Homo sapiens: one gene and its partners. The protein of the gene in region 1 purifies or fractionates together with the protein of each later gene. This does not show direct contact. Each region holds a gene or a part of one and is shown in the gene's direction. Other genes may lie near its edges. The genes, in order: AAAS, ANKRD22 and NDC1.

Region 1 (2,483 bases):
CTCGGCCTCCCGAAGTGCTGAGATTACAGGCATGAGCCGCTGCAACTGGCCTGTTTTTTGGTTTTTTTAGAGATGGGGTTTCATTATGTTGCCCAGGCTGGAATACAGTGGCTATTCACAGACTCAATCATTGCACACTACAGCCTTGAACACCTGGGCTCAAGTGAGCCCCTTGCCAAGTAGCTGGGACTATAGGTGCGTACACCACGCCTGGAAGGTTGTTGGTTTTTTTTGTTTCTACTAAAAATACAAAAATTAGCTGGGTGTGGTGGCGTGCGCCTATAATCCCAGCTACTCAGGAGGCTGAGGCAGGAGAATTCACTTGAACCCAGGAGGTGGACGTTTCAGTGAGCTGAGATAATGCCATTGTACTCTAGCCTGGGTGACAAGAGCGGAACTCGATTTAAAAAAATTTTTTTAAATAAATGAACAAAAAACAAGGCCAGGCGTGATGGCTCATGCGTGTAATTCCAGCACTTTCGGAGGCTGAGGCAGATGGATCGCTTGAGCCTAGGAGTTTGAGACTAGCTTGGTCAACATAGATGCTGTCTATACAAAAAATAAAAATAAAAAAACTAGCTGGGCGTGGGGTGTACGCCTGTAGTCCTAGCTACTTTAGAGGCTGAGGCAGGAGCCTCAGGACTTTGAGGCTGCAGTGTGCTATGACTGTGTCACTGCACTCCATCCTGGAGTGTGAACCACCATGCCTGGCCCAGGAAATATTTTTTACAGCATTATGTATAATAAAAAATTACAAACAAGTCAAATGTCCATTTGTAGAGGCATGACTCAATAAATTATAGTTCATCTATTGAGTGGTATACAATGGAGCCACTGAAAAGAATGAGATGAATCTGAACCCACCTGCAAAGGCAGCTGTGATTTATCATAAAGTTCAAGAGAATTAAATTGTACATCCATGACTAAGACTTCACTGGAGCTGAAGGTGGTTATAGTTAGGTGGAAAGAGAGGTGGCATTAATTCAGGTAGTAGCCTTCGTCTGTCAGGCCAGGCACATGGCTCTGGAAATACACAGCTGCAGACACATGGCAGGTGCCCTCAGGTAGTTCCCTGCTGGTGATGGAGGCCGAGCCACATGCTGCATCTTTTTTTTTTTTTTTTTTGAGACGGAGTCTCGCTCTGTCGCCAGGCTGGAGTGCAGTGGTGCAATCTCGGCTCACTGCAACCTCCGCCTCCCGGGTTCAAGCAATTCTCCTGCCTCAGCCTCCCAAGTAGCTGGGACTACAGGCGAACACCACCACGCCCAGCTAATTTTTTTGTACTTTTAGTAGAGACGGGGTTTCACCATGTTGGCCAGAATGGTCTCGATCTCTTGACCTCGTGATCCGCCCACCTCGGCCTCCCAAAGTGCTGGGATTACAGGCGTGAGCCACTGCGCCCAGCCTGCAGCATCTTTATGATAAGGAGCAAACGCGGGAGCTGCAGAGTTGGGAGGTACTTTGATAAGGCAAGGCAGGAGGGCTGTTTGGGAGCACAGGATGTGTTCTGAGGAGTGTTAGATAACTGGAGAGAAAAGGTTGGAACCTTGAAGTAATGTCATAGATTATTAATCCTGGATAGATGGATGGCCAGGCTGGATGGCCTGTGGGCAGAGAGCTGTGTTCTGGGGTAGGGCCTGATATCGCCCCAGGGGCAGTACCTTCTAGGTTACTGGTTAGGTTTTGCCTCATGGCCTATCTCGTGAAAGCACTCTTTCACCCTGGCCTGAGACCTTGCAGATTACCTCTTCTCTGTTGACCTGCTCGTGGTGACTTGGTCGTTTTTCCCCTTCGCTGTTTTTTTCTTTTAACTTTCACAATCCTTATTCCTTTTTCACAACCTGGATTTGAGCCCAGAGTGGGCCATCAGGATAGGAGGTTTTAGCAGGAGGCAAAGAAATAGAATTTTGGGGATGGCTTCTTGTCATCTTCTGACTCCACATCCTCTGTGTTCCCCTCCAGACCCTCTTCTGGCTGTGCCCAAGTGCTGTCTCACCCTGGGCATACACCTGTTACCAGCTTGGCCTGGGCCCCCAGTGGGGGGCGGCTGCTCTCAGCTTCACCCGTGGATGCTGCTATCCGGGTGAGTGGGTCCCTGCCCCTCATGCACATTTCAGTCCTGGCAAAAGTGTTCCTCACTCGGTTGTGGAAACATCTTGGGGGAAGGAGGAGGGACCTTGGTCCATTCAGTCTTAAACTTACCCAGAGAGGAGCTTTGCCATCAGACTCGTGAGGTTTAAAATTCCGCTGTCTGTAATTGTCAGCATGAACCCGTGCCTCATGTTTCACAGTCCCTCTCCCGCTTCCTCTCGTTTCTGGCTCTTTGTACATTAGAGAGGCCAGCCCACTGTGAGATGATGGGGTGCTTGAGTTTTCCCTTATCTCCTGCCCCACTCTCCTAGGTATGGGATGTCTCAACAGAGACCTGTGTCCCCCTTCCCTGGTTCCGAGGAGGTGGGGTGACCAACCTGCTCTGGTCCCCA
Region 2 (3,658 bases), on another chromosome or scaffold:
TCCAGAGCTAAACCTGTCTTGATAGCCAAAGGTACTATTTCTTCACTCACCAGCACCATGGTTGCTTGGCTACTTTTCCAAAGGCCAAATTTTGGACACTAATGCCCTAGCTATAATTTTTTTGACCTGTAGTGTTTTAAATTAGTACCAACAGAGTAGATGCACTAGCTTATAACACATAATATAAGCTATAACAAATCACGTTTGGGAAATGTCTCTGTAGAACTGCACTGATCTTGCAGGTGTCCTGCAGCAAGAGCACCCGACTTCTTCAGTAGGAATCATCACCAAAACCATAGAGGATAATGTTTATGTAAAGGGCCATGTGGAGACTCTTTAAGGGAAAGATGGTGACATGATCAAGGTGATGATCACCGAGGCATATAGCATGCGACAAAGAAACTTTGGCACAATTCAGCATCAGCTTTTTTAAGTTGCATTCTTTAGAACAGAAAATGGAAAACAAAAAGGCAGAGATTGATGGCTTATATGACACTAACATACATATACATTGAGACAGAGAAGAAATTTTTTTTTTTTTTTTTTTGAGACGGAGTCTCGCTCTGTCGCCCAGGCTGGAGCGCAGTGGCGCAATCTCGGCTCACTGCAAGCTCCGCCTCCCGGGTTCGAGCCATTCTCCTGCCTCAGCCTCCGGAGTAGCTGGGACTACAGGCACCCGCCACCGCGCCCGGCTAATTTTTTGTATCTTTTAGTAGAGACAGGGTTTCACCGTGTTAGCCAGGACGGTCTCGATCCTCTGACCTCGTGATCCGCCCGCCTCGGCCTCCCAAAGTGCTGGGATTACAGGCGTGAGCCACCGCGCCCGGCGAAAAATTTTTTAAGTACTAGAAATAGTTGTCTATCAATGGTTTGCAGACTATTTTTCTGCTTAGTTGTATACTACAAAGTGTGAAAAGGATTTGCCAATGAAGCCACATGCTATGGTCTGTGGAGGGCCCGACTTATGAGCTGAAGTTTTGGCCCTTTGTGTTTCAGTATGGCTGTACCGCATTACATTATGCCTGTGAAATGAAAAACCAGTCTCTTATCCCTCTGCTCTTGGAAGCCCGTGCAGACCCCACAATAAAGAATAAGGTAAGGGAGGGTGGACCGTGGTCTGAGGTTCCTCTAGCAGCAGCATCTTCTAATCTAGGCCTTATGTTGAAGTAAATTATTTGCCTCTGACGTAAACAACAGTAAAATTAATCATCCTCATTAAGGAATGAAGTTATCCTATTACTATTAGGACTGATTGCCTTTTAAAGCCCTTGCCAACACAGAGAGTCAATTGGTCTAAGCTACGTACGAGATCTTGGGCACTCTATTGGAAATAACTGTATATTTTTCCCCCCTCAGCATGGTGAGAGCTCACTGGATATTGCACGGAGATTAAAATTTTCCCAGATTGAATTAATGCTAAGGAAAGCATTGTAATCCTTGTGACCACACCGATGGAGATACAGAAAAAGTTAACGACTGGATTCTATCTTCATTTTAGACTTTTGGTCTGTGGGCCATTTAACCTGGATGCCACCATTTTATGGGGATAATGATGCTTACCATGGTTAATGTTTTGGAAGAGCTTTTTATTTATAGCATTGTTTACTCAGTCAAGTTCACCATGGCCGTAATCCTTCTAAGGGAAACACTAAAGTTGTTGTAGTCTCCACTTCAGTCAGAAACTGATGTTTCAGCTAGGCACAGTGGTACATGCCTGTAATCCCAGCTACTTGGGAGGCTGAGGTGGGAGGATCACTTGAACTCAGGAGTTTGAGAGCAGCCAGGGCAACACAGCGAGACCCTGTCTCAAAAAAAAAAAAAAAAAAAAAAGCCCTGGTGTTCCAAACTCAGTCTTTCCTGAAGAAGAGGATCTGAGTTATCTTCTGAAACAGCGTTCTCCCTTCCCAGTTGTATCACTCTTATAAAAAGACTGTCCAGTCTATGTCATGCCCTAGGAGACAAACTGTTCCTCCCAGCCCCCTTTGAGTATTGAGCAGAAGAATCAAATTATTAAATACGTATGTTTGTACAGAATGGTATTTGTGTATGTGTGTGGGCTTAGAGATTCACAAGTAAATATTCCTTTGGTGAAGGAATTTCAATAAAAACATCTATCAAGTGTCAGCGGTGAGTGTGTTTACACCACAGAAATTGGCAAATTGACAAATCAGAGTTTGTTTTTGTTTTTTTGTTTTTTACTTTCCATAAAGTTCGTTTACCAGCATACCACTAGAGATTTCGGTTTACAAATAAAAGCCATCTTGGTTTGAGCAAGACTATGCAACTATGAAAATGTTCGTTTAAAAAAATCTTCATGATCCTTTTGTAAATACAAGGTGGTTGCCAAGCTTGTTAGTTTTGTTTATTTTATTGATAGATGTAAAATATTATTGTAACTTATTTGGATAAAGTTCTTCAAAAGAAACAGAGCTATACAATGAGGTAGGATCTGGATTATTTGTCTAAGTGAGAGATTGCGAATATCAAAATATCTGTCTCACTTCTTCTGTGAATGACACAGAGTAGAAATAAATTCACTTTAAAAATATGACTGAATTTTGAAAATCAAGACTGAATCTCACATAGCTGCAGACAGGAACTAAGCCAGCCTCTTTGTATGTGGTAACAAGTACAGTATAAGAATGAAAGATTTACCATCCTTGAAAGCTCTAATGAAAATCAAATCCAGCAATATATATTCAACTGTGTACAGGATTTAAGAAACTTATTTTATGAAGGAAGTAATAGTGTGTAGATATAGATTCTGAAGTCTTTAAACGTGTCTTAATAAATTAAGATTCACTGGCATTGAGCTGAGCTACCAGGTGACCCTTGGGGACAAAAAACCCACACAAGTGAATTTCACACACCAGTATACCTTCAACAATATACTTTTGACACACACAAACCTTTGATTTGGTTTCAGAGATTTTGCAAAATAGTACCAATGTAATTTACAACTGTCATCTTTGAAATTGTGTAAAAGTGGAATAATTTTCTGAAGAAATAAATCATGGTTTGTCAATGAGTTGCAGAGACTGTCTGACATTAACTTTGTCAAGATTAAAGGATAAAGTATATGACAATTTGTTTCATCATGCTCATGACATTATGCAATTTTCTCCCTAGCTTTTAATTTTTGGAGGCAGAAAATTGAGCCAGAAATTTTTAGTCATTAGGTCTCCTAGCAACAAGCTGTAAACCTTCCAACAAGCTTGGACTAGAATCTAGACACTGAAATGCACATACATGCTTTATGTAATGCAGAATGCATTTATTGGAGAACTCATAAACATCCTATAAAATTTTCTTCCCTGAGATGCAACTATAAAACTTGGCCTTATTCTGAGAATGCTTAACATAGATTTCATCCATACTGTAACACTGATTTTGTTGTTGTTGTCCTTAAAGCAGCTCAGCTTCCTGAGGTAGTGTTATGTCTCTGTGGCAACAAGGTGAAAATGTCTAGCTTATTTTGTCAAAGTCAACAATAATCCACAGACTCCAGACCTCAATATCTGTCCCAATTTGCCATTTTACTTTAGTGCTCCAAAAATATGGCTTATAGAAAAAACAATAGGTGTTTTAAAGAGATTTACCTGAATGATATAGAGAATGTCTAGATATTTTCTGGCTATCAGGTAAAACCTACCCTTCA
Region 3 (3,658 bases), on another chromosome or scaffold:
AAAAATAGATCAGCAAATGACTGAATTTTCTAATCCTTCTCCATCTACCTCTATTAGTGCTGAGGGTAAGACAATGAGACAACCCAGTGTGATTTATTCATGGATTCAGAATAAACGTGAACAGGTAGGATGATATGGTTATAGGATTTATATTTGCATGTAAAATTGAGAACATTAAGGATCTCACATGAGTAAGTCATCAGGAATAAGAAGCTTTTTTTTTTTTTTTTTTATGCTTCGTGTATTGACTCAAATGAAACAGCCAATATTTGACTGGTTTGAGCTATACACATTGTAATTTCATATGACTTGACCTGATAACTTCATGTAAGAAATATTTGAGTTCTTTATATATCCAAGGTGTGCTTTTAGGCACTGGGAAAAAAGCAAACAAAACAGAGTCCTTGCCCATGTAATATTTACATTCGAGTGAGGGGAAATCAGTGAGTAAGCAAATGTATTATATTCTGTTTCTCTGAAATATAAAATATCATTAATTATAAGACTTATGTGCTATTAAGAAAAAAGATGCCTTAACCCATGACGTGCTATTGACTGTAAGATGCATCTCAACAGGTCATATTCAAGATATGGAAAACATGCATAAGAAGGAAGAAATTTGATATAAGTCTTAACTAGAAAAACAGAGCAAGGAAGACAGAGAGTTCCTAAGGGAGAGGGTATCATTTTATGTGGAGTGATAAGGGGAAGTCTCATTGATAAGGCAATGATTGATCAGAGACCTGAAGGGAGAGCTGGGAGCAGCCCAGTGCATCTGAGATGGGAATGGCCTTGGCTTGTGTGAAGAACAATGTGGATACCAGTGTGGCTGGAGCAGAGTGAGTGAGGGGAGAGTGGTAAGTGGGTGATAAGATCAGAAAGGTAGCAGGCACCCAGGGCTCATTGGCTGTAGTAAAGACTGGCTTCATCTCTGAGTGGGATGGAAAGTCACCGTATGGTCTTGCCCACAAGAATGATATGATGTAACTTATATTTTGAAAGTGCTGCTCTAGGGGCTGTGTTGGGACTAAACTCTTGCAAGGTAGGCATGTAAGCCCAGAGACGGTGTTAAGGTGTTAAGTAATCTAGTGGGAGATGGTGGTATCTGGGACCAGAGTGGTAGTGGTGGGGGCTGTAAGATGTGGTCAAGGTCTAGGTATGTATTTTAAGTTAGATGGAATAGGATTAGCTTATGGTTTGGTTGTGGTGTATACTAGAAAGAGTCAGTGTTCACTGGTAAGGTTTTTGGCCTGAAGATCTGGAATAATATAGTTGCAATTTATTGAGTTGGAATTTACTGATGATTCTGGAGAAGGAGATTTGATAGAGGTGAGGGGAGGGAAATCAGGAGTTTGATTTTGGACAAGCCAATTTTGAGATACCTATGAGACAACCAGGTGAAAATACTTAGTAAGAAATTAGGCATATAGCGGTAGTGTAGGGGAAAGTTCTGGGCTAGAAATGTAACTTTGGAAGTTTTCAGAGTATAGATAGTATTCAAAGCATGAGACTCGATGCAAACTCTTGAATGTAAATACAGAAGAAAAGAGATATCCAAGAAAGGGGCCCTCCAATGGCTAAAAGTTTGGGAGATAAAGAATAGCAACAGAGACTGAGGTGGGTAGAAATCCAAGAAAAGAAAGAGTTTCAAGGAGGAGAAGGTGGGAGTGTCAGATGCTGCTGATGGGTAGCATGGGGCGGGAACTAAGAATTAACTGTTGAGCTAGAAATGCGGAGGTCACTGAGTCCTTGACAAGAGCTGTTGGCTGGAGTAGTGGGGACAAAAAAATGCATGAGTTCAGGAGAGATTGGTAGACGAATTGGAGACCACAAGAAAAACCACATTTTTCAAGGAATTTGTTGTAAGTGGAACAGAAAAATGGGGCAATAGCTGGGAGGAATTGAGGGGTCAAGGAACTTTTTTAAAAATTTTGAGATGGGTTCTTGGTCTGTCTGTTGCTCAGGCTGGAGTGCAGTGGTATGATCATGGCTACACTGCAGCCTTGAACTCCCGGGCTCAAGTGATCCTCCCACCTCAGCCTCCTGAGTAGCTGGGACTACAGGTGCCTGCCACCATGCCTGCCTAATTTTTTTAATTTTTATTTTTTGTAGAGACACAGTCTCTATGTTGCCCAGGCTGATCTCAAACTCTTGGCCTCAAGCAGTCATCCTGCCTGAGCCTCATAAAGTGTTGGAATTACAGGCGCGAGCCACCACGCCCAGTCATGTTTTTATTTTTTAAGATGGGAGAAATTATAACATGTTTGCTGATGGAATGACTGATTAATAGGGAATGAATGGTTAAAGGCATTTCATAAACTTCGGGATCCCATACGGCTCTATATGCCATTAGTACTGCCGTGTCACTTTCTACCCAACCAGACACGTGCTGCTTGCTGCAGCCTTCTGACTAGTCATGCAGCTTTGGGTGAGAGTATGGTAGGAGCAGATTCACTTTTAAGTTAGTTGGGTTAGCTTTTAGCTGATACTAAGAACACTTTTTCCCCCGGAATTGTCAACTAGTAGAAAACTACTTTGTGTCTTAAGATATTTTTTTTCCTGTAATCTCAGCACTTTGGGATGCCACAGTGGGAACATTGCTTGAGCCCGGGAATTCGAGACCAGCATGGGCAACATGGCAAAACCCCATCTCTACTAAAAATACAAAAATTAGCTGGGTGTGGTGGTGCATTCCTGTAGTCCTAGCTACTTGGGAGGCTGAGGTAGGAGAATCACCTGAGCCCAGAAAGCAGAGGTTGCAGTGAGCTATGAATGTGCCACTGCACTCCAGCATGGGTGATAGAGTGAGACCCTGTCTCAAAAAAAAAAAGATTTTTTTTTCCCTGTGAGAGAAACATACTCTTTTTTTGGGTATTAAAAGGTTAAAGGGCAGGACAGTTATAGAGAATCGAGAAATAATGTGGCCTTGAAAAATATCTCCAGTCTGTAATCCTAGCACTTTGGGAGGCTGAGGTGAGAGGATTGCTTGAGTCCAGGAGTTTGAGACCAGCCTGGGCAAGATGGTGAGACCCTGTCTGTACAAAAACATTTAAAAATTAACCGGACATGGTGGTGTGCCTGTATTCCCAGCTACCCAGGAGGCTGAGGTGGGAGGATCTGTTGAGCCCAGAAATTTGAGGTGGCAGTAAGCTGTGATCATAAAACTGCACTCCAGCCTAGGTGACAAAGCGAGACCCTGTTTCTGAAATAAAAAAGAAAAAAGAAAAAAGAAAAAAATTTCACCAAAACCACTTAGAATTAATTAATTTTTTTTTATGTCAGGGCTCTAATTTGGGGGTTAAACGTGTATACATGGGAATACAGTTTAGTTGGCTCATCTTGGTTGTCCAATTTGTAGCACAAAGGTATTTAGTTACATGGCGTATTGTTTAAGTATTATTATTCTTTGCCCACAAGATGTGAAGTGTTTCATTTTTTCATTTAAGTTACTGTCTGGAAGAACTAGGAAATGTGTTATATTTGAATAGAATTTAAAAGGTAAATGTGTTAATTCTTCCTTTTTTCCAACTCAGATTAAGAATTTCTTGTCAAAACGGGTGCTGATAATGTATTTTTTCAGTAAGGTAAGAATATGTGGTTATAGCGTTGGGAATGGGGAGGGAGGAAATGAAATATGAAATAAAGTAGCAGATAGGAT

The links.
Region 2: the proteins of AAAS (region 1) and ANKRD22 purify together in Homo sapiens (co-immunoprecipitation; one large-scale study listed by IntAct). This does not show direct contact.
Region 3: the proteins of AAAS (region 1) and NDC1 purify together in Homo sapiens (affinity purification with mass spectrometry; one large-scale study listed by BioGRID and IntAct). This does not show direct contact.

What each region holds. Positions count from the first base shown.
Region 1 is NC_000012.12:53,309,201-53,311,683, reverse strand, and holds part of AAAS (aladin), read left to right. Parts: intron 1-1,962; coding exon 1,963-2,083; intron 2,084-2,402; coding exon 2,403-2,483. UniProt on the Homo sapiens protein: Plays a role in the normal development of the peripheral and central nervous system.
Region 2 is NC_000010.11:88,820,717-88,824,374, reverse strand, and holds part of ANKRD22 (ankyrin repeat domain-containing protein 22), read left to right. Parts: intron 1-996; coding exon 997-1,095; intron 1,096-1,356; coding exon 1,357-1,434; 3' UTR 1,435-3,658.
Region 3 is NC_000001.11:53,793,155-53,796,812, reverse strand, and holds part of NDC1 (nucleoporin NDC1), read left to right. Parts: intron 1-8; coding exon 9-124; intron 125-3,533; coding exon 3,534-3,584; intron 3,585-3,658. UniProt on the Homo sapiens protein: Component of the nuclear pore complex (NPC), which plays a key role in de novo assembly and insertion of NPC in the nuclear envelope.